Linked DNA regions of Homo sapiens: all the other regions are linked to region 2. The links come from fine-mapping of genetic effects on gene expression. A gene starts in region 2. Each other region holds a variant in brackets. All regions are shown on one strand. Distances are between the middles of the regions.

What was found.
Region 1: its variant is fine-mapped to the expression of UFSP1 in breast (GTEx, PIP 0.96).
Region 3: its variant is fine-mapped to the expression of UFSP1 in whole blood (INTERVAL, PIP above 0.99).

What each region holds. Positions count from the first base shown.
Region 1 is chr7:100,261,454-100,271,617 of GRCh38, reverse strand. LOC105375426 (a long non-coding RNA gene) reads left to right here and starts at 4,134. Exons shown (of 2, transcript XR_927809.2): 1 at 4,134-5,002; 2 at 6,488-6,751. It also overlaps the pseudogene CASTOR3P. RefSeq lists enhancers at 771-1,292, 1,817-2,339. The variant G/A (reference allele first, on the strand shown) is at 6,075.
Region 2 is chr7:100,884,004-100,894,132 of GRCh38, reverse strand. It overlaps UFSP1 (UFM1 specific peptidase 1), which reads left to right and starts at 4,418. Exons shown (of 1, transcript NM_001430944.2): 1 at 4,418-5,412. The coding sequence starts at 4,634. The coding sequence ends at 5,290. SRRT (serrate, RNA effector molecule) reads right to left here. Exons shown (of 20, transcript NM_015908.6): 6 at 9,894-10,063; 7 at 9,581-9,765; 8 at 9,295-9,393; 9 at 9,093-9,210; 10 at 8,763-8,920; 11 at 8,371-8,432; 12 at 8,192-8,270; 13 at 7,698-7,886; 14 at 7,165-7,338; 15 at 6,933-7,086; 16 at 6,620-6,813; 17 at 6,274-6,430; 18 at 5,990-6,091; 19 at 5,750-5,876; 1 more. The coding sequence ends at 5,584. It overlaps ACHE (acetylcholinesterase (Yt blood group)), which reads left to right. Exons shown (of 5, transcript NM_000665.5): 2 at 1-968; 3 at 1,315-1,799; 4 at 2,795-2,964; 5 at 3,798-4,139. The coding sequence ends at 3,919. RefSeq lists enhancers at 700-1,438, 1,439-2,178, 2,459-3,191, 3,415-3,474, 3,192-3,925 and 1 more and silencers at 2,975-3,024, 3,096-3,253, 4,345-4,394.
Region 3 is chr7:100,923,014-100,933,177 of GRCh38, reverse strand. It overlaps the pseudogene RPS29P15. Among named protein-coding and RNA genes, the nearest start is that of MUC3A, 21 kb to the left of the region's middle. RefSeq lists enhancers at 3,783-4,739, 4,740-5,697. The variant G/C (reference allele first, on the strand shown) is at 5,239.

The DNA of each region.
Region 1 (10,164 bases), 620 kb after region 2:
CTCTGTCGTCCCCCCCATCTCCCACCCCCTCCCCCATCGCAGCCCCCTTCCCGAAATCCGGGGGGCTGGGGCGGCTGCAGTGACGGATCCGTGAATGGATGAAGGAACGAACGAATGAATGAATGAAAAACAGGTGTGGGGACGAGGCCGTGGAAAAAACAAACGCCCCCATACCCCCATCCCTCGGTTGGGCCGGCCCCCGTCGCCACGGCGTGGGGAGGGATTCCGCTGAGCGCGGTTACCCAGAGCAGAAAATCATAAAATCATTAGTGGGTGTTTATCTCAAGGTGCCTACGAGGCTTGCTGCGGACGGCCTGGAATTGGGGGGGAAACGGGGGGTAGGCGAGGGCCAGGGAGGGGCTACAGAGGACGTGATTCTTTCTCCTTGGGGTCCTGGAAAGGGGGTGGGGGGATGTTTTGCCCAACCGTAGAAGGGGAGGAGCAGGCATGTTTATGCATCTGCCTTGAGGCTGGGCTTGGATGCTGCTGGGGGAAAAATAGTTGAAGGCCTTGGAAGGTAACAGATGGAATCACACACACACACACACAGACACTCACTCTCTCTCTCACTTGGATTTTCCCTATGCCAGGTAAGGGTTTGACATTGTGAGCCCCGGTGGGTGCTTGCATTAGGGTTTTGTTGTTGTTGTTTAAGGACCCTGAGCCGAGGGGAGTGTGAGTGCCAGCTAGCTGCTGTAACTTAAGTCTCATTTGCCCACGATTGTGACTGTTAAAAAGGAATGATAAAGTTGTTACTGGTTGGTTTTTCGCGGTTTGGGGCGGTGGTGGCTCTCCCTCACTGCAAAATGAATGAATACGTTTCGGGTCAAGGTTAGCGTGAAAATGACAGCCCCTGTAGGCTGCCCCCTTTGGCACTGAGCTCAAGGGACACAGGGAAATAATTCCATCCCAGCCTGTTATCTGCCTGTGAAAAGTTCTGGCTTGGAAATCTCACTTTGATGTGTGTGTCTGAGCCGGGTGCTCAGTCCGGCTATTGTTTGCGAGATGGAGCCAGACCTGCCGGTGGCATCTTGTTTACTTTCTTCTCCGGCTGCTCAGTAGGGGATGGAGATTTGAAATAGTCGCCAAGCCTCTGCCACGGAGCCTGTGCTCCCCGTTGATTGCAAAGGGTAATGATTAAACAGGTCATTTGAAAACAAAAGCCAACAGCTCGGATTCTGAACCGCGCCCCCACCCCTCACACAAAGCCCCCTCTGGCTGTTGACACCTTCAGATCCTGCTTCTGCCTGCCCTCTGCCCCCCACTCCCTAGCCGGGCTGGACGTTCCAAGGCTTGGAGGTAACAGAACAGCCTTGTTTTTCCAAGTCTTGGCCCTCAGCCCTGGGCAGCCCCCTGGCTGATTTCTCGGCCACCATTCAAATGAGGATGATGACTCAGGCTGCGGCTGTGCACAGGGCCTGGGTGCTGGAAGGAGGGGGCATTTGGGGGCTTCTTAGAAAGGCAGCAAAGGGCAGGGTCCCTCAGCCCCTTTCCCTTGGTGGAGAGACTGGCCTTCTTCCAGCCCCCAACTCAGGGTCCCCTTTGGGTACTCATGGATAGGCGTGTCTCTGGGGTCAAGCCCCCCTGCTGGCCTCTGGGAACACAAGAAAACCTGTCCCTCAGTGGGTCCCCCTTCCTCCCTCCTGCAGAAAGCAGCCTGTCCTGTCCCAGGCCCAGGTGACCCAGCTGACTAGTCCAGTTTCAAGATGACTCAGAGGCCAAAGGCCATCTCTGTTTCCATGGTCCGGCCTCAGAAGGTGCGGAACATTCGTCAAATGCCTGAGGACCTGCCACCCCAAGCACTCTGAGCCCGGATCGTGGCTTCAGGTCATGTGTGACCAGAGCCCGCTGCCTGCGTGGCTGAGGCAAAGTCTCTCCTCTGGCTCACACTTTGTCCGTCTGTAAAATAGAGATAGCACTACTTGGCCCCCTCATGGACACAGAACTGCTGTGTGGATGGTGTGGGACGATTGTGGGAAATGGCTTTTTAGCAAGTGTTAATGGGTCGCAGCCTGCGAACATAGCATTTAAACTGTTTTCAATAATCAGCCATCCAGGTAGAACCCCTTAGATTCTTCCTGTAATACCTGCCCCCAGGTGGTGACCCATAGCTCTGTCACCTCCCTCTCCAAAACCTACGTTTAGCCCAGACTAGGACAGCATGCCCTGAGGGTCCCTGTGCCACCTGTTTACTTTTCTTTTTTTTTTTTTTGAGATGGAGTTTTGCTCTTGTCCGGGCTGGAGTGCAGTGGTGCCATCTCAGCTCACTGCAGCCTCCATCTCCCAGGTTCAAGCGATTCTCCTACCTCAGCCTGCCGAGTAGCTGGGATTACAGGCATGCACAACCACGCCTGGCTAATTTTGTGTGGAGACGGGGCTTCTCCATGTTGGTCAGGCTGGTCTTGAACTCCCGACCTCAGGTGATCCACTGGCCTCCACCTCCCAAAGTGCTGGGATTCCAGGCGTGAGCCACCACTCCCGGCCCGGTTACAGTTTTGTCAGTCACTCTATAGCATCAAATCGTTGACATGGCATTCGAGGCCCTTTGGGATCTAGATCCTGAATCCTCATCTTTATTTTTTTGTTTTTTATTTTTCTCTTTTAGAGACAGAGTCTTGCTCTGTCGTACAGGCTGGAGTACAGTGGCGCCATCATAGATCAATACAGCCTCCAACTCCTGGGCTCAAGCAGTCCTCCCACCTCGACCTCCCAAAGTCCTGGGATTACTGCTCCTGGCCTTGAATCCTCATCTTTAGCCCTCCCCCAGCAAATACACAATTTCCCTTATTGTTCCCTACATACCTCTGTGCCTTCGTATCTACCTCTCTTCCATCTGCCTGGAATATTCTCCCCCATCCACCCCTAGTAAATTCCTATTCAATCCTCAAGAGCTAATGATAGCACGCTGAAACCTTCCTGAACCTTTCCCTCCGCCCCTTAGCAGACTTAAGTCACTTCTCTCTCGTGCAGTGGAGTTGTGGAAAGGGAATGGCATTAGGAAACATTCACTCTGTGTGGGGGTGTGGCTGGGTCCAAGGGATGCAGAGATACCTTGCCCCTTCCTCTGCCAAGCCCTAGAGCCTGGTGGAAGAGAAAGAAAGAGGCCATCACTCTACAGCAGGGTGGAGTCAGGGAAGGGCTGGTCTAGCAGGGTACCTAGAAGGCTGGGTGCCTACCTGTAGGAGGTGGCACTAGATCTTAGAGCTTTTTGTTTGTTTGTTTTTAAGAGATGGGGTCTCCGTTGCCCAGGCTGAAGTACAGTGGCACCATCATACCTCACTGCAGCCTCGAACTTCTAGGCTCAAGCAATCCTCTCACCTCGGCCTCCCAAGCACCTGGGACTGCGGGTGCGCACCACCACACTCAGCTAATTTTTAAATTTCTTGTAGCGATGGGGGTCTCACTGTGTTGCCCGGGCTGGCCTTGAACTCCTGGCCTCACATGATCCTCCCACCTCAGCCTCTCAGAGGTGCGTGTGGACATAACATTTAAACTGTTACAGGCATGAGCTGTTGGTCAGGCTGGTCTCGAACTCCTGAACTTGTGATCCGCCCATCTGGGCCTCCCAAAGTGCTGGGAGGCGTGAGCCACCATGCCTGGCCAGTGAACACTAACGTCTTAAGAGGCATTTATGAGAGAAAAGCTTAAAATTGCAAAAAGTCCATGCAGAGCCCTCGTCATTCCTCGGAGCACATTGGGCTGAGGCCACTGTCTGATTGCCCTTTAGGGAAAGACAGGCTAGCCCAAGGGAGTTAGAGCCCTGGGACACCTCGGCTGGAATCCCAGCACTGCTCATCCTGGCTGTGTGACCTTGGGCAAGTTGCTTGACTTCTCTGTGCTATGTTTCTTACCTGTAAAACAGGGATGATGATCATGCCTGCAACCTAAGTGGTTGTGAGGGCTTGATGAGATAAACCACGCCAAGCACTCTCAAGAGTATCTGGTCTACTAGAAGCTCCAATAAGCATTTTTTTTTTTTTTTTGAGACAGAGTCTTGCTCTGTTGCCCAGGCTGGAGTGCAGTGGCATGATCTCAGCTCACTGTAACCTCTGTCTCCCAGGTTCAAGCGATTCTCCTGCCTCAGTTTCCCAAGTAGCTGGGATTACAGCTCTCTACCACCATGCCTGGCTAATTTTTGTGTTTTTAGTAAAGACACCTGGAACTCCCAAAGTGCTGGATTACAAGTGTGAGCCACTGTACCCAGCCATTAAGCATTAACTGGGAAGGCCCTGGGGCCACTGGCCAGCACCAGTTTGTGAGGGCAGAGCCAGAAAAGCCCAGGCTTAGAAGACTTTTTACACACACACATAACGCATCCTGATTCTGGAAAGTGGAGATGCTGTCACTGCTCTCACAGAACTAAGCCAAGGACCTCACCTGTCATTTAGGTGTCAGGCCTCTGGCAGGGGCAGCCAAAATGCTCTAGGACCACAGAGCTGCAAGCCAGTAAGGCTTCCTAGAGGAGGCGGCATCATCTGATCCAAGAATGGGGTGATGGGTGGCATGAGAAAATGTCAGGAGGTGCTGGGGATAAAGCAAGATGAGCAAGCAGAGAACAGGAGTGGGTGGGTACAGATGGATCAGGGGAGGGGTATGGGTGAAGAGTGTACAGGGTGAGCCCCAGAGCCGTGCGTGTGCCCACTCAGGACAGCCATAGTCTGCTGCTGCCTAGAGAAAGGGGCTGGCTCAACCCTAGCTCCCAAATCTTTTTCCTATGACTTTTTCCTTTGTCCTTATCTCTTTCCTGAACTATCCAGATATCTTCCTGCCTCCTGCCTCTAGGGCAGCCCAAATGCTCATTGCTGCCCCATCCCTCTGGGCTGAAGGAGCAAACGCCTGGAGGCTGGAAAGAGAAAGGTGTCTGCAGGGAACAAGCCGCTGTCCTGTGGTGGGTGCAAATTGGTATGCTCTGTTCACGCAGAAACCCAGCAGTGTGTACCTGCTGTAGGCAAGGCCTAATAGGAAGCGCGAAAGGAGTTTCTGTCCCATGGGAGGAAAAGACGTGAGTCCTGTGTGTTCTCCAGCAAAGGTAGAGGGTGAGAGGACCAGAGGCCCGCACAGGGGGCATGGCTGGGAGTGCAGGGGCAGGGGGGGAGTCCGGGAGGATGGAGGGACACAACTGGAGTGGGTGCTGGGTCGACTTCATGCATTCCTTCAGAATCCCTGGCCACATCTCTGCCTTGTTGGTTTTGTTTGTTTTTTCAGACAGGGTCTCACTCTGTCACCCAAGCAGGAATGCAATGGCGTGATCTCAGCTCACTGCATGCAATCTCTGCTTCCTGGGTTCAAGTGACTCTTGTGCCTCAGCCTCCCGAGTAGCTGGGATTGCAGGCATGCACCACCATGCCTGGCTAATTTTTTGTATTTTAATAGAGACGGGGTTTTGCCTTGTTGGCCAGGGTGGTCTCAAACTCCTGACCTCAGGTGATCCACCCACCTTGGCCTTCCAAAGTGCTGGGATTACAAGCGTGAGCCACCACTCCCGGCCTGAATTCTTTCTTGATCAGATGTCTTCTGTCTATCCACTCTGGCTCTGTCTACTCCCTTCCCAACACATGCTCTATTTTAGGTAACCATGGTAGTTTTGTTTTGTTTTGCTTTTGCTTTTGTTTTTGGAGATGGAGTTACACTCTGTCTCCCAGGCTGGAGTACAGTGGCACGATCTCGGCTCACTGCAACCTCTGCCTCCTGGGTTGAAGTGATGCTCCTGCCTCAGCCTCCTGAGTAGCTGAGGTTACAGGTACCACCACCATGCCTAGCTAATTTTTTGTATTTTTAATTCAGATGGGTTTTACCAAGTTGGCCAGGCTGGTCTTGAACTCCTGACCTCAAGTGATCTGCCCGCCTTGGCCTCCCAACGTGCTGGGATTACAGGCATGAGCCACTGCACCTGGCCAACTGTGGTAGTTTTTAGATTTTTTTGTACAGAGGGGGTCTCACTCTGTTGTCCACGCCGGTCTCAAACTCCTGACCTTAAGTGATCCTCCCTTCTTGGTTTCCCAAAGTGCTGGGATTACAGGCATGAGCCACTGCTCCCAGCTGCTGGTGGTTTTAAAAGCTAGGATCGGCTGGGC[G/A]CCGTGGCTCACGCCTGTAATCCCAGCACTTTGGGAGACCGAGGAGGGCAGATCACAAGGTCAGGAGATCGAGACCATCCTGGCTAACACGGTGAAACCCCGTCTCTACTAAAAATAGAAAAATTAGCTGGGCGTGGTGGCGGGCGCCTGTATTCCCAGCTACTCAGGAGGCTGAGGCAGGAGAATGGCGTGAAGCCGAGATCCCGCCACTGCATTCCAGCCTGGGCAACAGAGCCAGACTCCGTGTCAAAAAAAAAAAAAAAAAGCTAGGATCCCTCCACCCCCCTCTCCTTTAAATGTCTGTCTTGGCTACTTTCTTCTAAGTCACTAGGAGATGGTAAAAGCAATACCGCAAGACTTCCGAGGCTAGGGCACAAAACGATAGCTTCTGCGTGGCGCTCCCTCTCTCCCAGATCCCTTGCTCTGTGGGAAACCAACCCCCAAGGCCTGAGGACACCCAAGCAGCCCCATGGAGAGGCCCATATGGAGAGGAACTGAGGCATCCCACCCTCAACCGGCAGAGCGGGGCTTTGAAAACAGATCCTTTCGCCCCAGGCAAGCCTTCCAATGGATTGCAGCCCCAGCCAATGCCTTGAACTGCCAAGTTCAGCCACACCTAAATTCCTAACCCATAGGAACTGTGAGAGATAATAAAAGTTTGTTGTTGTTTCAAGCCACTAAGATTTGGGGTAATTTGTTATGTAGCAACAGATAAGGAATGAAATGACCCTGCCATTTATCATTGAGACGGGAACAAACATTTTTTAGAATAGCAGGAAGTACTTAAAATAATTACTAGGTTGGCCAAGTGCAGTGGCTCATGCCTGTAATCCCAGTATGCCTGTAATCCCAGCAAGCCTGTAATCCCAGCACTTTAGGCTGATCGCTTGAGCTCAGGAATTGGAGACCAGCGGAGGCAACATGGTGGGACCCCGACTCTGCAAAAAATACAAAAAAATTAGCTAGGTATGATGGCGCCTGCCTGTGATCCCAACTACTTAGGAGGCTGAGGTGGGAGGATTCCTTGAGCCTAGGAGGTAGAGGTTGCAGTGAGCCGAGATTGCACCACTGTACTCCAGCCTGGACAACATAATGAGACTCTGTCTCATCATCATCATCATCATCATCATCATCATCTTAACAATAATAACAACAACCTGCAGACAATAGGGCAAACCTGACTATGTGATCATGCTACCTTTAGTCCAGCCAGAGAACTCTCATGAGTCCTTAAACCTAACACAGACACTTCTTGAGGTCGGCTTCAGCATCCTCTCCTCCAGGAAGCCACCCTGGTGCCTGGTGAGTGGCTTCCTGGGATCACCCATGCCTCAGGGTGCAGGATGAGAGGGCTGGTCCTGATCCCCTTCTGTCCTCACCCCCAGGTCCATGTCCAGGGCTTAGGACCGGTCGTCCCTCGGTGTTGACTTATCTCCCAGGGATCAAAAAAGTCAGTTGTAGCTGGGCGCAGTGGCTCACGCCTGTAATCCTGGCACCTGTGGGAGGGCCAAGCAGGTGCATCACCTGAGGTCAGTAGTTCGAGACCAGCCTGGCTAACAAGGTGAAGCCCCGATTCTACCAAAAATACAAAAATTAGCCGACGTGGTGGCGGGCGCCTGTAATCCCAGCTACTCAGGAGGCTGAGGCAGGAGAATCACTTGAACCCAGAAGGCAGAGGTTGCAGTGAGCCAAAATCATGTCACTACACTCCAGCCTGGGCGACAAGAGTGAAACTCCATCTCAGAAAAAACAAAAACAAAAACAAAAAAACCTTGTAAAAGGTTTAATTGGTCTCTTCTGAGCCTGCACACAGCTGGAAAGGTTTTCTCTTATAACAGATCTGCAGTATGAGAAACCAGCCCAGTTGCATCCGCGCTGGGCCAGTGGGATTCTGGGTGTCCAAGGTCCCTGTGGGCCATCCACGGTGCTAAATTAAAACTTTTTGAAAAACATTCTTTTTTTTTTTTTTTTTGAGACAGAGTCTGGCTCTGTCCCCCAGGCTGGAGTGGAGTGGTGCGATCTTGGCTCACCACAAGCTCTGCCTCCCGGGTTCACACCATTCTCCTGCCTCAGCCTCCCGAGTAGCTGGGACTACAGGCACCTGCCACCACGCCCGGCTAATTTTTTTGTATTTTTAGTAGAGACGGAGTTTCACCATGTGAGCCAGGATGGTCTTGCTCTCCTGACCTCGTGACCCGCCCGCCTCGGCCTCCCCAAAGTGCTGGAATTACAGGCATGAGCCACCGCACCTGGCCTGAAAAAAATTCTTGAGACAGGGTCTCACTGTGTCACCCTAGTTGGAGTGCAGTGATGCAATCCCAGCTCACTCCAGCCTCGATTTCTCAGGCTCCAGCAATCCTCCTGCCTCAGCCCCACTGAGTAGCTGGGACTGCAAGCACTCACCACTACACCCAGATAATTTTTGTTTTTTTTGTAGAGATGGGGTCTTGCTATGTTGCCCAGGCTGGTCTCGAACTCCCGGACCCAAGTGATCCTCCTGCCTCAGCCTTCCAAAGTGCTGGGATTACAGGTGTGAGCTACGGTGCCTGGCCTAAATGGAAAACTGGTGTCTAGGTGCCATATATACTCAGGCTTGCCCTCACCATAACACATTGAACATACTCCAACCTCTGAGCTAGATCTCTGCTCGAAAACCTGAGGTTTTGCTTGCACACCCCAATTTTTTTTTTTTTTTTTTTTTTTGAGACAGGGTCTTGCTGTCACCCAGGCTGGAGTGCAATGGTGCGATCTTGGCTCATTGCAACTTCCATCTCCTGGGTTCAAGCGATTCTGGTCCCTCAGCCTCCCGAGTAGCTGGGATTACAGGTGCACGCCACCACACCTGGCTAATTTTTGCATTTTTAGTAGAGATGGGGTTTCATCATGTTGCCCAGGCTGGTCTTGAACTCCTGACCTCAAGTGATCCACCAGCCTCGGCCTCCCAGAGTGCTGGGATAACAGGTATGAGCCACCGCGCCTGGCCATGCACCCACATTTACAGCAACCTTATTCACTAAGGCCTAAAGGTGGAAGTGACCCAGGTGTCTACTGATGGATGAACAGATCAACAAAATGGGATGTATTCACACAGAGGAATATTATTCAGAGGGGAAAAAGGAAGGAAATTCTGACACATGCTACAACATGAATGAACCTTGAAGACATCATGCTGAGTGAAATAAACTAGTCACAAAAGAACAAATACTGCATGAGATCCCACTTGTATGAAATACCTGGTGTAGCCGGAGTCATAGAGACAGAAAGAATGGTGGTTGCCAAGAGCTGGGGAGTTGGTGTTTAGTGGGTATGGAGTTCCTGTTGGGTAAGATGAAGAGTTCTAGAGATGGATGGTGGCAGTTGCTGTCCGTATTGCAAACGTGCTTAACACGATTGAATTGCACACTTAAAGATAGTTAAGATGGTAGGTTTTGTTGTGTGTATTTTACAACAATTAATAAAATTTGAGGCCAGGCGTGGTGGCTCATGCCTGTAATCCCAGCACTTTGGGAGGCTGAGGCGAGTAGATTGGTTGAGCTCACAAGTTGGAGACCAGCCTGGGCAACATGGTGAAACCTCATCTCTACAAAATATACAAAATGTAGCTGGGCATAGTGGCATGCACCTGTGGTCTTAGCTACTCAGGAGGCTGAGGTGGAAGGATCGCTTGACCCCAGGAGGTGGAGGCTGCAGTGAGCCGAGATTGTGCCACCGTACTCCAGCCAGGCAGTAGAGCCAGACCTTGTCTCAAAAAAATAAAAATTAAAATTAATGTTTAAGATTTTATTTTATTTTAGATTCAAGAGGTACACGTGCATGTTTGTTACATGCATATATGGCATACTGGTAGGGACTGGGCCTCTAGTACGCCCATTACCCAAATAGTGAACATTGTACCCGATAGGTAATTTTTTTAACCTTCCTCCCCTTCCCAACCTCTATTGGAGTCCCCAGTGTCTGATGTTCCCGTATTTTTTTTTTTTTTTTTAGACACGGTCTTACTCTATCGCCCAGGCTGGAGTGCAGTGCAATCTCAGCTCAATACAGCCTCTGCCACCTGGGCTCAAGTGATCCTCCTGCCTCAGCTTCCCGA
Region 2 (10,129 bases):
GGGAGGATGCAGAGCTGCTGGTGACGGTGCGTGGGGGCCGGCTGCGGGGCATTCGCCTGAAGACCCCCGGGGGCCCTGTCTCTGCTTTCCTGGGCATCCCCTTTGCGGAGCCACCCATGGGACCCCGTCGCTTTCTGCCACCGGAGCCCAAGCAGCCTTGGTCAGGGGTGGTAGACGCTACAACCTTCCAGAGTGTCTGCTACCAATATGTGGACACCCTATACCCAGGTTTTGAGGGCACCGAGATGTGGAACCCCAACCGTGAGCTGAGCGAGGACTGCCTGTACCTCAACGTGTGGACACCATACCCCCGGCCTACATCCCCCACCCCTGTCCTCGTCTGGATCTATGGGGGTGGCTTCTACAGTGGGGCCTCCTCCTTGGACGTGTACGATGGCCGCTTCTTGGTACAGGCCGAGAGGACTGTGCTGGTGTCCATGAACTACCGGGTGGGAGCCTTTGGCTTCCTGGCCCTGCCGGGGAGCCGAGAGGCCCCGGGCAATGTGGGTCTCCTGGATCAGAGGCTGGCCCTGCAGTGGGTGCAGGAGAACGTGGCAGCCTTCGGGGGTGACCCGACATCAGTGACGCTGTTTGGGGAGAGCGCGGGAGCCGCCTCGGTGGGCATGCACCTGCTGTCCCCGCCCAGCCGGGGCCTGTTCCACAGGGCCGTGCTGCAGAGCGGTGCCCCCAATGGACCCTGGGCCACGGTGGGCATGGGAGAGGCCCGTCGCAGGGCCACGCAGCTGGCCCACCTTGTGGGCTGTCCTCCAGGCGGCACTGGTGGGAATGACACAGAGCTGGTAGCCTGCCTTCGGACACGACCAGCGCAGGTCCTGGTGAACCACGAATGGCACGTGCTGCCTCAAGAAAGCGTCTTCCGGTTCTCCTTCGTGCCTGTGGTAGATGGAGACTTCCTCAGTGACACCCCAGAGGCCCTCATCAACGCGGGAGACTTCCACGGCCTGCAGGTAACTAGTGGCTAGCTGGCGTGAAGCTGGCTCCTCTGGGTCCCAACGGTCCCTCCCCTCCCTGCAGGGACCCAGGCATGAGGGCTTCTCCAGGCCCATTCCCAGAAGTCCCAGAAGTCCTCCCTGAGGGCTCAGATCCCAGGGTGGTCAGCAGGGCAGACAGGAAAGCCACCATGGGTCTATTTTCTCTTTCTCTGCATCCCTCCCCTGATCTCGTCCTCTCTCTGTCCATGGTTCCGGGTCTGTAACTGTTCATCTCTCTGGCTCTTTGTCTGTCCATCTGTTTCTGTCTACTTGTCTGTCTGTGCCTGTCGCTCCATCCCACCCCCCTCTCCCTCACCCCCAGGTGCTGGTGGGTGTGGTGAAGGATGAGGGCTCGTATTTTCTGGTTTACGGGGCCCCAGGCTTCAGCAAAGACAACGAGTCTCTCATCAGCCGGGCCGAGTTCCTGGCCGGGGTGCGGGTCGGGGTTCCCCAGGTAAGTGACCTGGCAGCCGAGGCTGTGGTCCTGCATTACACAGACTGGCTGCATCCCGAGGACCCGGCACGCCTGAGGGAGGCCCTGAGCGATGTGGTGGGCGACCACAATGTCGTGTGCCCCGTGGCCCAGCTGGCTGGGCGACTGGCTGCCCAGGGTGCCCGGGTCTACGCCTACGTCTTTGAACACCGTGCTTCCACGCTCTCCTGGCCCCTGTGGATGGGGGTGCCCCACGGCTACGAGATCGAGTTCATCTTTGGGATCCCCCTGGACCCCTCTCGAAACTACACGGCAGAGGAGAAAATCTTCGCCCAGCGACTGATGCGATACTGGGCCAACTTTGCCCGCACAGGGTCAGCAGTGCAGAGGGAGAGAAGGCTGGGGAGGACAGGAGTCGGGGGCGGGAGGACACACAAAGGCAGACACACGGAGACAGAAAGGACGGGTGGGACAGGGGCAGGATAGAACAGCCAGAGAGGGATATGCTCACAAAGTAGATAAAAGGGGAGAGAAAAAGAAAGGAGACAGAGAAGGCAGAGGGGGTCTTGCAGAGACAGAGGCAAAGGAAAGTGAGGAGGAGACGAGGTAGACATGGAGGGGGCGGGGCACAGTGGCTCACCCCTGTAATTCCAGCCCTTTGGGAGGCCAAGGTGGGAGGATCCCCTGAGGCCAGGAGTTTGAGACCAGACTGGACAACATAACAAGACCCCGACTCTTAAAAAGAAAAAAAATACAAAACTTAGCCAGGCACGGTGGCTCGTGCCTCTAGTCCCAGCTACTTGGGAAGGTGAGGCAGGAGGATTGCTTGAGCCTGGGAGGTTGAGGCTGCAGTGAGCTATGATGGCACCACTGCACTCCAGCCTGAGTGGCCCTATCTCTGGAAAAAAAAAAAAAAAAAAAAAAGGGAGACCAAGACAAAGGAGTTGGAGCTGGATTAAGTCAAACCAGTGATGATTCACTAGCAGTGACACATTCTCTCACACACACACCAGTTTACCTGGATCGAGAAGAGGACAATGAAATCTAGCATTGGATGGGTGTTGTTAAAAAATGTGATGTTTGTAGACATAGGACCCGTCCTGGTTATTTAGGAAAGTCTCAAGACATCCTAGCCATTTTTTTAGTGAGAGAAACAAAGATGGAACAGAAAAGCTGAGGGAAACGGAAGGAGACGGAGCGCTTGAGGAAGGGAAGACCCCAATGACCGCGCACATTGGAGAAAGTGGTGGGAGGGAGGGGACGGGTTCTCTGGGGCTCTCCGCTGAGCTGAAGAGTCCGGGATCCCGTGGAGTTGGGGGCCACCTCCTCCCACTGCCCGTCTGGACTGAGCCTTCCCTTCCTTCCGCAGGGATCCCAATGAGCCCCGAGACCCCAAGGCCCCACAATGGCCCCCGTACACGGCGGGGGCTCAGCAGTACGTTAGTCTGGACCTGCGGCCGCTGGAGGTGCGGCGGGGGCTGCGCGCCCAGGCCTGCGCCTTCTGGAACCGCTTCCTCCCCAAATTGCTCAGCGCCACCGGTATGCAGGGGCCAGCGGGCAGCGGCTGGGAGGAGGGGAGTGGGAGCCCGCCAGGTGTAACCCCTCTCTTCTCCCCCTAGCCTCGGAGGCTCCCAGCACCTGCCCAGGCTTCACCCATGGGGAGGCTGCTCCGAGGCCCGGCCTCCCCCTGCCCCTCCTCCTCCTCCACCAGCTTCTCCTCCTCTTCCTCTCCCACCTCCGGCGGCTGTGAACACGGCCTCTTCCCCTACGGCCACAGGGGCCCCTCCTCTAATGAGTGGTCGGACCGTGGGGAAGGGCCCCACTCAGGGATCTCAGACCTAGTGCTCCCTTCCTCCTCAAACCGAGAGACTCACACTGGACAGGGCAGGAGGAGGGGGCCGTGCCTCCCACCCTTCTCAGGGACCCCCACGCCTTTGTTGTTTGAATGGAAATGGAAAAGCCAGTATTCTTTTATAAAATTATCTTTTGGAACCTGAGCCTGACATTGGGGGGAAGTGGGAGGCCCCGGACGGGGTAGCACCCCCCATTGGGGCTATAACGGTCAACCATTTCTGTCTCTTCTTTTTCCCCCAACCTCCCCCTCCTGTCCCCTCTGTTCCCGTCTTCCGGTCATTCTTTTCTCCTCCTCTCTCCTTCCTGCTGTCCTTCTCCGGCCCCGCCTCTGCCCTCATCCTCCCTCTCGTCTTTCGCACATTCTCCTGATCCTCTTGCCACCGTCCCACGTGGTCGCCTGCATTTCTCCGTGCGTCCTCCCTGCACTCATACCCCCCCTTCAACCCGCCCAAATGTCCGATCCCCGACCTTCCTCGTGCCGTCCTCCCCTCCCGCCTCGCTGGGCGCCCTGGCCGCAGACACGCTCGACGAGGCGGAGCGCCAGTGGAAGGCCGAGTTCCACCGCTGGAGCTCCTACATGGTGCACTGGAAGAACCAGTTCGACCACTACAGCAAGCAGGATCGCTGCTCAGACCTGTGACCCCGGCGGGACCCCCATGTCCTCCGCTCCGCCCGGCCCCCTAGCTGTATATACTATTTATTTCAGGGCTGGGCTATAACACAGACGAGCCCCAGACTCTGCCCATCCCCACCCCACCCCGACGTCCCCCGGGGCTCCCGGTCCTCTGCATGTCTCAGGCTGAGCTCCCTCCCCCGCGGTGCCTTCGCCCCTCTGGGCTGCCAATAAACTGTTACAGCCACGGGAGTGTGCGCGACTAGGGAGCCAGGGGTAGAGGCAGAACGCCGGAATCACGGGGGCCGAGTCTATGCAGGAGCGGGGCTGGAGGGCAAGAAACAGGCGAGCTCCGAGGCGGGCGCAAGGCAAAGGCCAACCCCTAGCCCTGCCCTGCCGGGCGGAGCTCGCGCCTGCGTAATGAGGCCCGCAGGCAGGCTAGCTGGCACGGCGGAGGGGAGGAGAGGGGAGGGGAGGGGAGGGGAGGGGAGGGGAGGGGCGGGGCGGGGCGGGGCGCGGCGGAGCATTGTGGGAGCTCCTCGGTCGGTGCCGGTCGGTGGCTGCCTATTGCGGCCTGCGGTGATCAACGAGGCCCGGGGAGCGCGTCCCCAGTCTGCGCGCCGGTCCTGCGGCAGCTGGCCCAAGACCCGGAGCCGAAAGGAAGTGTTGGAGCCTGAGGTCGCTCCGCGCCGCTAGGAGGACGCTGTGCCTGGCCTGGGACCTCCGCTCCCGCCCACCGCCCTGGAGCCGCTGAGGGACGTCCACGTGGGCCTGTCCCCGCCGAGCCGCGGCCCTGTCCGCCTGGCGCTGCTCTCGGGCCACTACCTCTACTACCACTACGGCTGCGACGGCCTGGACGACCGCGGCTGGGGCTGCGGCTACCGCACTCTGCAGACGCTGTGCTCGTGGCCAGAGGGCCAGCCCGCGGGCGTACCTGGACTGGCCGCCGTACAGGCGGCCCTGGAGGACATGGGCGACAAGCCCCCCGGCTTCCGGGGCTCCCGGGACTGGATCGGCTGCGTGGAGGCCAGCCTCTGCCTCGCTCACTTCGGAGGGCCCCAGGGACGCCTCTGCCACGTACCCCGGGGAGTGGGGCTGCACGGGGAGCTGGAGAGGCTTTACTCGCACTTCGCAGGGGGTGGGGGCCCAGTCATGGTTGGGGGGGACGCAGATGCCAGGTCCAAGGCCTTGCTGGGAGTCTGCGTAGGGTCAGGCACGGAAGCCTATGTCCTGGTATTGGACCCTCACTACTGGGGCACTCCAAAAAGCCCCAGTGAACTACAGGCTGCTGGGTGGGTGGGCTGGCAAGAGGTGAGTGCAGCCTTTGACCCCAACTCCTTCTACAACCTGTGCTTGACCAGCCTTAGCTCCCAACAGCAGCAGCGCACCTTGGACTGAGGACGAAGTTACAGAACTGAGATTCTCGGGTCCCAGACACGCACCTATGTACCTCCCACTGGTGTCCCTGCAAAGCCTGGCGCTTTTGACATCAATAATAAAAGTGGCAGGGCTGAGCAACACCTCAGGAGTTACTCTGGAAGGATGGAGGAGTTATGTAACACACGAGAGTCAGGAGCCCTGTGGAAGTGCTTTTATTAGCAGTAAGGCTGATCGTACAAAAAATTCTCAGAGCTTCATAGGACAAGGTAGTACAAGTATGGATGATACAGGACTGAGGAACGGGGGACGGCTCAAAAGAAATCAACATCGTCTGGGGCATCCAGGTCCCGATATTCCACAATGGCCCTTGGGTCTCCACGAACCATCCTGTGAGGTGAGAGGTACAGGATGAGAGCTGAGGGCTCCCAAAAGGGAGTCTGCAGGCGGCAACAAAGCTTGGGCGTCTGCCCTCCTCACCTGTTGCGAGGTTTCCCAGGATAACCTCCCTGGCCTCGGAAGGCATCATAGTTCCCTCGACCAGCACCATACGGGGCATGGGGGTATGGAGGGCCTCCTGTGGGGACTGCAGGGCGGACAGCACCAGCTATGACAGAGATCAGTGTTGAGTTGCAAAACTATGTCCTCAATTCCATCCTCTGTTTTCTTCTCCCAAAGCCACACACTCACCAAGCCCCTTCATCTCCCTCCTGTACTTACCTCCATAGCCCAAGATCGGGGGCCGGGGCTGACCATAGGGCATCAGGCCCTGGGGAGTCTGGTGTGGGTAGGGGAGTCCTGGGGTCAAACCTGGGGGGAGTACAACACGGACAGGGACATGAATTACTGCGGGGGCGGGGAGGGGGATACGGGTACAATTGACTTCTAGGGCTATGGCCTGAGGATGGGGCAGAAACTTCTCGGGGTGACACGTTAAAGAGAAACAGGAGTCCCTGGGTAGTCAAGGAAGAGGGCACATGCGACCTTCATGGATCGTATCTTACTCTGGGCGGGGCCAGGTGGCTGGGCTGGCTTGATCTCAGGCAGAGCTGGGCGCTTAGCATCAGTGAGGAAGTTGTTAAAAAACGCGACTTCCTTTTTCACTTCCTCAATTTTCTCTGCATGCTTGTTGAAGATATGTTTGCGCACAAACTCAGGACCCTGGGTGGAGAGAGGAGAGGGGTCAGGACAGCCACATAAGGGTTGCCTCGCTCCCAGGCCCGAGCTGGAAGGATTCCCAGCTCCCGCCTGCCAGTGCAGTAAGCAGTTCCCCCACCCCTGCCCAGGGGGCTTCCTGTCTCAACCCCACCTCCCACCACCGTAGCACGGCCATTCTCCAACATCCCACACCTTGAATTTCTTGCCACTGAGAGGACACAGCCACTTATCCTTGCCCAGTTCCTGCGTGTTGGAGGTGACGAACTTCTCCACTTCCTGCTCTGGGTCTTTGCGCCCCATCTTCTGGGCCTCTTCCTCTGAGAGTGACTCCCGCACACTCAGCAACGGCGTGAGCTTCTCCTCAAAAGTCTTCTGCCACTCCAGCACTGTGGTTTGGGAACAGAGGAAGGAAGGTTGGCAAGGGAGCCAGAAGGAAGGATGGTGGCAAGGGGCTGGAGGACCAAGGCCAGGGGCAGCCGGGAACAAAGGGGAACCTGGAGCTCACCTTCCCCGTGACTGATGCGGTTGGGTGGCATGGGCCCCCGAACGTGGATGATCCCACAGCGATTGGGCATCTCGTCCTCGTTGGGGTACTCACAGGTGTTGTAATAATCCAAGGAATGCACGATGCGCAGGTAAAGGAGGAGCTTGTCCAAGACCTAAGGGAAGTGAATGCGAGCGTTCAGCTCCTGCCCTCACCGCCCGAGCCCCCACGTGCCCCGCGCTGCCACTGGCACCTTAATCAACTTCTCATCCCGCTCCACGTTGATCTCTGCCGGGTTCCCTTCCTTAGGAGGCTCCTCAGGAGGAGCGCCCCCGCTGCTCCCCAGCAGCTCCTCCTCCTCGGCGCTTACTTCCTCGATCAGGTAGTCGGTGATATTCTTCAAGATCGGGTTTTGCGAGGGCAGGCTCTGATGGGAGGAAGAGAAGCAAGTAAGGCAGAGAAGACCTTCAGAGGAGGTAACCTGAGACTTTCCACAAGTGAAAGAGCAGCGAGGGGACAGGAGTTCACCGGACATAAATGGCACCTTTTGCCCCCTTGAGATTTGTCTTTATTTTAGCTTTTGTTCCACCCCAGCCACAAATGATCACTAGCATCCCCCCAGTTCTGCTGGAATCTGGAGGTGCTGCTACCCACACACGAAGGGGCAAATGAGTGAGCAGGCGAGTGGGTGCAAGGGTTCAAGGCTACAGATAGGTAAGGTCAGAGGTGCCCACAGCAGAGGCACTACCAGTTGCTTCTGACAAAGTCCTTTGGGGAGTCACTGACCGTGGGCAGGGGAGGCGTCCCTGGTTCTGAGGCCCAAAGCTGTGTCCTGTCATCCAGCGTGTGGATCAGCTTGGCCGCCAGCTTGATGTCGTTGCGCACAATCTGCTTGTGCTGGGTGATGCCGTTGATGTTGCGAACGCGCCGGGTCAGGTCCCTGTTCACACCAGGGCTCAGCTCACACTCCCGGAGCTGGAGGGCAGACATCATCAGCAGCTTACCCCACTTACCCCGCTTGCCAGAGAAACAGCAGCTCTAAGACCCTTCCCTCTTGAGCACCAGCGATTGATCAGACTGCGAGCTCCCTGGGGACGGGGACCACATAGGTTCCGTCCATGCTAACGCCCTAGAGCCTTGCCCAGAGACAACGTAGCCAGACAAAACGGTCAAAGAGTGTGCAGAACAACCAAACTATCAGATGAACAAAGTCACACAGAGGTCCCGTGTGGCACAGAGTCTCCCTTCCTCTTCCCCACAGTCCCACCCCCAGCACTCACACGGATGTTCTGCAGGTTCCAACAGATCTCTTTAATGTTAACACTGCGGTCGAAGGTCACCCAGCCACGACGGAAAAACCTACACAAGAAAGAAAATGTTAGCATAGTCAAGCGAGGGAGTTGGTGTTGGCCATTAACGTTCCCCTGCACTTTTCCCTCCAACGCACCGAGTTACTCACCTCCTCTCTGGCTGGGGCTCTGAGAGCGCCACCCGCATAAAGCCTGGGTACCTTTTACAAAGCTGCAAGAAGCAGAAAAGCAGCCCCACAGTGACTCAAGGATTCATTCGCTTCTTCCTCCAATCCCCCACTGCCCTCAGAACCCTAGGGACTAACTGCCTTATCACTCTTCCCATCCTTGGGCAGGGAAAAACCACTAAAGGGCTTCAGAACACCAGCACCTGAAAGCCAATGGCGCTATCAGGACTAGTCCTCGGAGGCCATGGAACCTGGGGAAGGGGCCTCCCTAGCAGGTGAAACGGGGGCATCTGTCACAGGCAGGGCCCCACTGCCTTCCCTCTACCCTCCACTTCTCCATCAGCCCTGCCCTGACTCCACGGGTCCCCACTCACGGAGATGATCTCGGCCCGGGAGATGTTGGGCGCGATGTTGCGCATGAAGAGGGAGCAGGTCTTATGCAGCGGCCGCGGCTTGCACTCCAGCCCCGCGGCGTCCTTGGGCTTCTCCCATTCTTCTTCCTTGGGCTTCTCCTTCTCCTTGAGCGCTTCTTCTAGGCAGGAAGGGGGGTAGGAAGGAGTTGGTGCATTTTTATTACTGATTGTGGTGGGGAGGATACAGAAGCTTTCCCCTAAAAGCCACCCACCCTCCCGTCAATGTCGCCAACCTCTCACCTCCCCACCCGCATTAGGAGAACGCACTTTAAAGCAGAAAAGAAACCCTACCGGCCTCCTCCTTCTCCTCCTCAGCCTGGCCGCTCTCTGACTCCGACTCAGACTCTGACACGCTGCCCTCGTCAAAGCTGTCGTCACCACTGTGCTTCCGGTTCCGCTTCTTGCTACTCTGTGTGAGCCACAGCAGAGGGGACAAGTCAGCGTGCCAGAACCCCAGCCCCAACACTCTGACCCCAGGCCACAGACACCTCACCTTTTTGGCTTCCTTCTCGGAGTCTTCTTTCTTCTCTTCCTTGTCCCCATCACCCTCCGACTTCTTTGTTTTGTCATCATTAGAACTGTCATTCTCAGCCTATGGTAAGAGACAACCACTGGGGATGTCAAACCTCCCCTCCCACCTTTATCAGAGGGCCCCCACCCCCACAGCTGAGGCCACAGGTTCATTTTCCCCAGCCCCCTACTTCTAGCTCCTATGGACCCCTACCCGCCCCCCTCCCCCAGGCTGCCAGGGACAACACTAGGAGACCCAGGGCTCGGACCTGCTTGCCGTCTTCCTTCTTCTCATCCTTGTCGTTGGTTTTGCGCTCCCCGTCCCCTAGGCCTGCTCCAGCCCGTCCTTCTTCTTTCTTGCTGGGCTCCCCAGGCTTTCCTGCCTGCTCCTCCTCCTCCTCCTGCTCCAGGATGCGAAGATCATTCTCCGTGCCTCCTTCCATCTTAATCACGGCTACCAACAAAGGGAACAGAGGTCATGACCCCAGGGCCCTGGCTCCTGTCAACCGGCTTCTACCTGATCCCCAGACACCCCCACCCCCATGGGGCCCAGATGCCTGCCACCCCTCCAAATCCGCACACCTGCATCCAGCATCTTGACAATGGCATCAGCTTTGTCTATGTCCAGGAGAAGGTTATCAAACCAGCCAGTCTCCATGAGGGACAGGAAGACCCTCAGTCGGTTTTGCAGGGCCCCCCGGGCCTCCTGCCGACGCTTCCCCACCTCATCTGGGTGGTACTTAGACCGAAACCTGGGAACGAAGCGGGGGAGGGAAAGACAAAACAGTTATTGGAAGCCAAGGCCAGGATGTGGGAAG
Region 3 (10,164 bases), 39 kb before region 2:
GAAAATGATGGCAGTAAAATAATGTAATCTAGCTGACTTCTTCTTGCTTCTAGCCTCTAAACTGTCCTTGTTCATTCCTGGGCATAGGCTAGGTTAACTTGGGGAGGAATTTAATTTATGGTTTAAACTTAAAGCAAGGATGATAATAGCCCTTCCCAAAACTACCACCTGTTTGTTCTGGGACCAAACTGCCTTTGTAAAACTAATGACAACTCACAAGATTAGGATTATGGGGGTGTCTGAACTCTGCTAAAATGAAGCTAAAAGTTCAGCCATTGAGCTGGGTGCGGTGGCTCACGCCTGTAATCCCAGCACTTTCGAAGGCCGCGGGGGGAGGGGGGATGCGGATCATGAGGTCAGGAGTTCGAGACCAGCCTGGCCAACGTGGTGAAACCCCGTCTCTACTAAAAATACAAAAAAATTAGCCGGGTAGATGGTGAGCCTCTACCTCCCAGATTCAAGTGATTCTCCTGCCTCAGCCTCCCAAGTAGCTGGGACTACAGGCATGCACCACCAACCCCGGCTAATTTTTTTGTATTTTAGTAGAGACGGGGTTTCACCACGTTGGCCAGGCTGGTCTCAAACTCCTGACCTCATGATCTGCCTGCCTCGGCCTCCCAAAGTGCTGGGATTACAGGTGTGAATCACCGCACCCGGCCTCTTGAAAGTATTTTTACTAGGTATAGAATTCTAAGTTGACAGTTTTTTTTTTTTTCAGCACATGAATAAGATTCCATTGTCTTCCGGCTTCAAGGTTGCTATACAGAAGACTGAGCTTAATCTGTCAGGCCTTTAATTTTTTTTCTCTTGCTGCTTTAAGACTTTCTGTTTCGTTAATATTCTGAAGCTTCACCAGGATGTTTCTGGGCATGGATTTCTTTGTATTTATCATGCTTGGGATTCCTTGGCTTCTCAAAGCTGATAAGGTCTCTTCTCAGTTTGGGAAACTTGCCAGCCATTCTCTCTTCACATATTTTCTCTTCCCCCGTTAACTCTTTTCTCCAGGAACTGCAATTAAATAGAGGTTAACCCTTCCCTTTCTATTCTTCATGTGTTTTTAACTACTCTTCCGTATTTTCTGTCTCATAGCTGCTCATGAAGCATGTGGTGAGTTTCTTCTGTTCTCTCAGTTTACAGATTCTCTCTTCAGCTCTGTCTAATCTGCCACTAAAACCTCCTAATAAGTTTGTTTGTTTTTTTTTTTTTTTTTTTGAGATGGAGTCTCTCTCTGTCACCCAGGCTGGAGTGCAGTGGCACGATCTCGGCTCACTGCAACCTCCGCCTCCCGGGTTCACACCATTCTCCTGCCTCAGGCTCCTGAGTAGCTCGGACTACAGGCGCCTACCACTGCCACCACACCCAGCTAATTTTCCTTCGTACTTTCTTAGCAGAGATGGGGTTTCACTGTGTCAACCAGGATGGTCTTGATCTCCTGACCTCATGCTAATAAGTTTTTCAATAAACAAATCTACATTTTAATAAGTTATTGGATACACACATGTATTTATTACTGAAAATGGAAATAACATATCAAAATATCCTCCTTTCGCTATTCAAGTTTGTTGGGTTCTTTTGTTTGTTTTTTGAGACTGAGTCTCATTCTTTTGCCCAGGCTGGAGTGCAGTGGTGCCATCTCAGCTAACTGCAACCTCCACCTCCCAGGTTTAAGTGATTGTCCTGCCTCATCCTCCTGAGTAGCTGGGATTACAGGCATGCACCACCATGCCTGGCCAATTTTTGTATTTTTAGTAGAGACTAAAAATAGTTTCACCATGTTGGCCAGGCTGGTCTCAAACTCCTGACCTCAAGTGATCCGCCCGTCTTGGCCTCCAAAAGTGCTAAGATTGCAGGCATGAGCCACTGCACCCAGCCTCAATATTCAAGTTTTTTTAAAGGTAAAGACACATCTAGCTACATGTACCCTTCTCTAATGTTATGCTTTATCCAAACTACCCAATGTAAACTCATTTTATATATTCCTTCCACATAAATTTCTTTACTTCAAGTGTTTGATGTTAGGTCTGCTCTCATCTCATTGACTTCAGGATTCTAAACCATACATGTAATCCATGAGAACTTGTACTACCTGGAGCCAAATCAAAAACTAGAACTGAGATACCAAAGCATCAAATTACAAAGAGGGACAAAGGGAAAAAAAAAAATTTACGTAGTCAAAATCATATTTTGAGTTATTAAAAATTATTGGATTTTTGCTGGGCACAATGGCTCACGCCTGTAATCCCAGCACTTTGGGAGGCCGAGGTGGGCAGATCCTGAGGTCGGGAGTTTGAGACTAGCCTGGCTAACATGGTGAAACTCCATCTCTACTAAAAATACAAAATTAGCCAGGCGTGGTGGCATGTGCCTGTAATCCCAGCTGGTCAGGAGGCTGAGGCAGAAGAATCACTTGAACCTGGAAGGCAGAGGTTGCAGTGAGCCGGGATTGTACCACTGCACTCCAGCCTGCGTGGCAGAGTGAGACTCATCTCCAAACAATAACAATAAAAATAAAAATTATTGGATTTATGCTTTCACTTAGAGTAAAAAAGCCACAAGAGGCTGGGCATGGTGACTGACACCTGTAATCCCAGCATTTTGAGAAGCCAAGGCAGGAGGATCGTTTGAGGCCAGGAGCTCAAGACCAGCCTGGGCAGCCTAGCAAGGCCCCCATCTCTACAAAAAGTGCAATAAAATTAATACATAAAATAAATCCACAAGAGACTATCACTCCTACCATAAAAAGAAGAAAAAGCTGGGTAATCTATAGGTTTTGGCATTTCTTGAGCCCATCAGAAATTTAGGCTTCAAGGCAACCAGGTGAACTGAGGTCCAAAGAGTGACCGCACCCTCTCAGGAGAGACAGGACACATGAAAAGTTCCACCTTTGTCAGAGCACAGGAGGAAGAAGTGGCCACCAAAAAAGCAGGTGATAGGAAAACAACATTTTAATGAATTCTCAGAGGCCAGGAGTGGGCCAGCATGACAACTTAGAATCCCCCTGGGTGCATCAGGATCTAGCAGACCCCAAGTTCACTCGCAATCTCTTTTCCACCTCTTGGTGCTCATGAGAAAGATTGGAGGTACAATGAGACAAGAAAGAGGCTCCCTCAGTGGTTCTCAGGCATGAACCCCCTCCTACCTCCCAGAACCTTGTCTCACAAGAAGCAGAAGGACTTAAGCCTCAGGGGAAGGGGCAGGAATCCTTCCCATCCCCTGAGGACAGGCAAAGGTTCACTCCTGGTGGAAGTAAGGGTACAAGTAAGGCCATGTATTTCTGGGGGAGGGATAGGACCAGCCCCTCATTACATGGTGAGGGAGGGTTGAAGCAAAATCTGCCCCCTTGGGAGGGGCAGGAAATCTCCTGGCTAAATCACAAGCTTTGCACCTGTAAACCAAAAAGAAAATTCTAAGCCCCCCAACCTACTGAGCGGACTCCTTCTCGCCAAGGGCATTCCAAAGTAAACCTGCAAAACTAGTTCAGGCCATGATGGGAAGGAGTGTTGGACATGCCTCATTCTGCCCTCATCTCTTTGGAATTCAGGCACAACTGACCAGCATTAACATCAACACAGAGATCTTAAGGCTGACAAAACAGACTCTTTGTAGCAATAAGATACCAAATTCCAACCTGACTGAAGTACAGCATCACATGACAGATAGCAGGTCCTGAAAGAAACAGAAGTATTTTACCCCAAAATAAATTTTTCTTTGACATATTTTGAAACAGCCCTGCAAATCTGTCTCTTGTAGGGAAAATCTACACTGTGTAGAGAGTCCCCTTCCCTTTCCAGGTCTTCTCCTGATTCAGGAGAGATATAACTAAGAGTCTGGCACCTTTTTAAGTCTGATGAGAAACACTTACCATCTATTCTCTCTGAAGCCTGCTACCTGGAGGCTTCATCTGCATAACAAGAACCTTGGTCTTGGCTCATGCCTGTAATCCCAGCACTTTGGGAGGCCGAGGTGGGCAGATCACAAGGTCAGGAGATCCAGACCATCCTGGCTAACATGGAAAAACCCTGTCTCTACTAAAAATACAAAAAATTAGCCAGGTGTGGTGGTGTGCACCTGTAGTCCCAGCTACTCGGGAGGCTGAAGCAGGAGAATCACTTGAACCCGGGAGGTGGAGGTTGCGGTGAACCAAGATTGCGCCACTGTACTCCAGCCTGGGCAACAGAGCGAGACTCTGTCAAAAAAAAACAGGTGGTCTCCACAACCCCTTATCTTTTTAAAAAATGTTTATTTTATGTGCAAAGAGCTATCATGGTTTTTTGGGGTTTTTTTTGTTTGTTTGTTTGTTTTTGACGGAGTCTTGCTCTGTTGCCAGGCTGGAGTGCAGTGGCGCTATCTCAGCTCACTGCAAACTCCACCTCCCGGGTTCAAGTGATTCTCGTGCCTCAGCCTCCTGAGTAGCTGGGATTACAGGCATATGCCACCACGCCCAGCTAATTTTTGTATTTTTAGTAGAGACGAGGTTTCACCATGTTGGCCAGGATGGTCTCGATCTGCTGACCTTGTGATCTGCCCACCTTGGCCTCCCAAAGTGCTGGGATTTCAGGCGTGAGCCACCGTGCCCGGCCACTATCATGGTTTTTCACTGGGTACATGCGTTGGATAAACCTTTCAAGGAAGGTCAGTTAGTGCAACTTAATGAAACCGATATCTTTCCTGTACTGACGGAAACACTGGCAGTACATATTGAGGGCATATTTACAGATCAGACCATGCCGATTTGGGCCGATGTGACAAGAATGAAAACCCTGGCCGAATATTCACTGGTGGCTCTAGTACAGCTGCTGGTGACCCATCTTGCTCTCAGAAGTGCAACAAGGTAAAAGGCCACAACCTCTTATTTTTAAACCAGACACGCCTTTCTGTTGATTCCAGGTCTTTAGATCATAACTTTACTCTTTCGACCAATTTCCAATCAGAAAATCTTGGAATTTACCTATGATCTGGAAGTCCCCCTGCCCCACACCCCAAATTGTTCCATGATTCCTGAGTGAACAAATGTACACTTTACACGTATTGATTGACGTATGCCTGTAACTTCCATCCCTCTAAAACGTATAAAATTGGCCGCAGGGGCGCACACCTGTAATTCCAGCAATTTGGGAGGCTGAGGTGGGCGGATCACTTGAGGTCAGTTTCACTTGAGTCCGTGTGAAGAGACCACCAGGTTTTGTGTGAGCAATAACGCTTTTAATCACCTGGGTGCAGGCGGGCTGAGTCCGAAAA[G/C]AGAGTCAGTGAAGGGAGAGAGGGGTGGTCAGTGAAGAGAGAGTCAGTGAAGGGAGAGCGGGGTTTTATAAGATTTGGGTAGGTAAAGGAAAATTACAGTCCAAGGGGGGTTGTTCTCTGGTGGGCAGGGGTGGGGGTCACAAGGTGCTCAGTGGGGGAGCTTTTGAGCCAGGATGAGCCAGGAAAAGGAATTTCAGAAGGTAATGTTATTAGTTAAGGCAGGAACAGGCCATTTTCACTTCTTTTGTCATTCTTCAGTTACCTCAGGCCATCTGGATTTATACGTGCAGGTCACAGGGGATATGATGGCTTAGCTTGGGCTCAGAGGCCTGATTTTCCTGTCTTCTTATATTAATAAGAAAAATAAAATGAAATGGGGTAAAGTGTTGGGGCGGCGAAAATTTTGGGGGGTGGTATGGAGAGATAATGGGTGATGTTTCTCAGGGCTGCTTCGAGCGGGATTAGGGGCGGCGTGGGAACCTAGAGTGGGAGAGATTAAGCTGAAGGAAGATTTTGTGGTAAGGGGTGATATCGTGGGGTTGCTAGAAGAAACATTTGTCGTGTAGAATTACTGGTGATGGCCTGGATATGGTTTTGTATGAATTGAAAAACTAAATGGAATAAGAGAAGGAGAAAAACAGGTATCAAAGGACTAAGAATTGGGAGGACCTAGGACATCTAATTAGAGTGCCTAAGGAGGTTCAGCACAGCCTTGCCAGCAAAGATTATTTATTTACTTTAAGAGTTAAGAGAGGCGGTTTGGGGATAGCACCAGGAGATACCAGCTGTGATGGCTTGGAGAAACAGTGTAAACTGGCAGTGTAAACAAGAGCAGGGCATTTATGAGTAGTTGAGAACAGTGAATAGGAGTATCACTAGACAGAAGATAGTAGGAATGACAAGTTTTTGGGGGCACAGTCTAAGTTGGTCTGGTGTCTGGAATAAGACTGGGGCCTAATAAAAAGGAGTGTCTATACAGGAGCTTAACTGGGCTGTACCTTGTAGCATTGTGAGGACAGGCCTGAATTCTGAGAAGGGCAAGTGGTAAAAGTATTGTCCAGTCCTTTTTAAGTTGGTGGCTGAGCTTGGTAAGGTGTGTTTTTAAAAGACCATTAGTTCACTGAATACTAAGAGCCTGAGAAACTGCTTGGGTGATTTGACTAATAAAGGCCAGTCCATTATAGGACTAGAGGTGGGAAGGCCAAACCGAGGAATTTTGTCTAAGAGAAGGGAAGAAATGACCGTGGTGGCCTTCTTAGACCCTGTGGGAAAGGCCTTTACCTATCCAGTGAAAGTGTCTACCTAGACCAAGAGGTATTTTAGTTTCCTGACTCGGGGCATGTTGAATAAAGCCAATTTGCCAGTCCTGGGTGGGGGCAAATCCCTGAGCTTGATGTGTAGGGAAGGGAGGGGGCCTGAATAATCCCTGAGTAGTAGAATAGCAGATGGAACACCGAGAAGTTATTTCCTTGAGGATAGATTTCCATGATGGAAAGGAAAGGAGAGGTTCTAAGAGGTGGGATAGTGGCTTGTTCTATAGCATAGCCTGCCTTTACTGGTGTGTGGTGATTAGGCCTGGTGGAACTGCCATCAATAAACCAAGTGTGATCAGGGTGAGGAACAGGAAAGAAGGAAATATGGGGAAATAGGGTGAATGTCAGGTGGATCAGAGAGACACAGTCATGGAGGTCAGGTGTGGTATCAGGAATAAGGTGGGAGGCCAGATTGAAGTCCGGGCCAGGAACAATGGTAATTGTGGGAGACTCAACAAAGAGTACAGCTGAAGGAGCCAGGGAGTAAAAAGTATATGTGTCAGGTGTGAGGAAGAAAATAGATTTTGGAAGTTATGAGAACTGTAGAGAGTGAGTTGAGCATAGTTTGTGATTTTAAGGGCCTCTAAAAGTATTAGGGTGGTGGCGGCCGCCGCACGCAGACTTGAGGGCTAGGCAAAACAGTAAGGTCAAGTTGTTTGGATAAAAAGGCTACAGGGCGCAGTGTGGGTTCTCGTGTAAGAATTCCAACTGCACAGCCCTGCACTTCGGCTGTGGGTAATGAAAAGGGTTGGGATGAGTCAGGGAGAGCTAGGGTGGGGGCAGTCTCTAAAGCTGTCTTCAAGGAATGGAAAGAGGAGTGGGGAAAGGATTTAGGATCTATGGGGTCAGCTAGGTTTCCTTTTGTGAGTTTATATAATGGTTTTGTTAGGATGGCAAAATCAGGTACCTAAAGTCAAAAGTATCTAACCATGACTAGGAAGGAAAGGGGTTGTTGTTTTGTAGAAGGTGCTGGGGTTTGAGAGATCAGTTGGAAACGATCAGCAGGGAGAGCATGTGTGTTTTTATGAGAATTATGCTGAGATAGGTAACAGATGAAGAAGAAATTTGGGTTCAACTGAAGGAATGGGGGCTGTCTGTGAAGCCTTGAGGCAGTACAGCCCGGGTAATTTGCTGAGCCTGATGGGTGTCAGTCAGGCCAAGTGAAAGCGAAGAGAGGCTGGGATGAAGGGTGCAAAGGAATAGTAAAGAAGGCATGTTTGAGATCCAGAACAGAATATTGGGTTGTGGAGGGAGGTATTGAGGATAGGAGAATATATGGGTTTGGCACCGTGGGGTGGATAGGCAAAATAATTTGGTTGACAAGGCGCAGATCCCAAACTAACCTGTAAGTTTTGTCTGGTTTTAGAACAGGTAAAATGGGGGAATTGTAAGGGAAGTTTATAGGCTTTAAAAGGCCATGCTGTAGCAGGCGAGTGATAACAGACTTTAATCCTTTTAAAGCGTGCTGTGGGATGGGATATTGGCATTGAGCGGGGTAAGGGTGATTAGGTTTTAATGGGATGGTAAGGGGTGCATGATCGGTCACCAAGGAGGGAGTAGAGGTATCTTATACTTGTGGGTTAAGGTGGGGGGATATGAGAGGAGGATGCAAAGGAGGCTTTGAACTGGGGAAAAGGGCAGCAATGAGGTGTGGCTGTAGTCCAGGAACAGTCAGGGAAGCAGATAATTTAGTTAAAATGTCTCAGCCTAATAAGGGAACTGGGCAGGTGGGGATAACTAAAAAAGAGTGCATAAAAGAATGTTGTATAAGTCGGCACCAGAGTTGGAGAGTTTTAAGAGGTTTAGAAGCCTGGCTGTCAATACTCACAACAGTTATGGAGGCAAGGGAAACAGGCCCTTGAAAAGAAGGTGATGTGGAGTGGGTAGCCTCCGAATTGAGTAAGGGGACGGACTTACCCTCCACTGTGAGACTTACCTAGAGCGTCTGTGATGGTCCTGTAGGCTTCCAAGGCGATCGGGCAGTGTCAGTCTTCAGCCACTAAGCTGAGAAGATCTGGGAAGGAGTCAGAGAGCCTTGGGCCAGAGTTCCAGGGGCTCTGGAAGTGGCTGCCAGGTGAGTTGAACAGTCCAATTTTCAGTGGGGTTCCACACAGATGGGACACAGCTTAGGAGGAATCCTGGACTGTGGGCATTCCTTGGCTCAGTGGCCAGATTTCTGGCACTTGTAGCAAGCTCCTGGGGGAGGAGGTTCTGGAGGAATCCCTGGCAGCTGCGGTTCAGGCATTTGGAGTTTTCATGTGCTGGAGATGTGGCTGGGGTTTGTCTCACAATGGAGGCAAGGAATTGCAACTCAGAAATACATTGCTACTTGGCTGCCTCTACTCTATTATTGTACACCTTGAAGGTGAGGTTAATTAAGTCCTGTTGTGGGGTTTGAGGGCCAGAATTTAATTTTTGGAGTTTTATTTAATGTCAGGAGTGGATTGGATAATAAAATGTATATTGAGAATAAGATGACCTTTTGACCTTTTAGGGTCTAGGGCTGTAAAGTGTCTCGGTTGCTGCCGAACAAGCCATGAACTGGGTTGGGTTTTTCATATTTGATGAAAGAGCCTAAATGCTAACTGATTTGGGAGAGTTCAGATAAAGAAAAAGGAGCATTAACCTTGACTATGCCTTTAGCTCCAGCCACCTTTTTAAGAGGAAATTGCTGGGCAGGTTGGGGAGGGCTAGTCGTGGAATAAAACTATAAGCCAGACTGGGTGTGAGGAGGGGAGGTGATAAAAGGATTATAGGGTGGGGGAGCAGAGGCTGAGGAAGAATTAGGACCTGGCTCAGCCTGGCGAGGAGCAGCCTGGGGAAGAGGGGAGAAGTCAGATGGGTCTGTAGAAAAGGAAGATTAGAAAGACTCAGCAACGCCTGGGGTTGGGACTGAGAGGACAGGCAGGAGGGAAAGAAGGAGGATTTGGGACAAGTCACATTGGGAACAGACAGTAGGAAGGGAACAATGTGTAAAAGAATGCCTGGATGTCAGGCACCTCAGACCGTTTGCCTATTTTATGACAAGAATTATCTAGATCTTGTAGGATGGAAAAATCAAAAGTGCTGTTTTCTGGCTATTTGGAACCACTGTCGAGTTTGTATTGGGGTCAAGCAGCATTGTAGAAGAAGATAAGGCATTTAGGTTTAGGTCAGGTGTAAGTTGAAGAGGTTTTAAGTTCTTGAGAACACAGGCTAAGGGAGAAGAAGGAGGAATGGAGGGTGGAAGGCTGCCCATAGTGAAGGAGGCAAGCCCAGAGAAAAGAGAGAGTAGAGACATAGAGAGAAGGCGTCAGGGGTGCTTGCCCCCTAGGAAAGTGGAGAAGGGGTAGAGACATGGAGAGAAGGGTTCAGGGGGTTCTTGCCCCTCAGAAAAGTGGAGAAGAGGTGGAGACACGGAGAGAAGGGGTTGGGGGATTCTTGCCCCCTAGAAAAGCAGAAAAGGGGTAGAGACACAGAGAGAAGGGGTCAGGGGGTTCTTGCCCCCCAGAAAAGCGGTACTTTCCACTAAGGGTGAAGGACCAAGGCAGGCATCCCCACATGGTCAGACACCTCTGAAATGTGGGTGAATAATCAGGCAGGCATCCCCGTGTGATTAAACACCAAGGGAGAC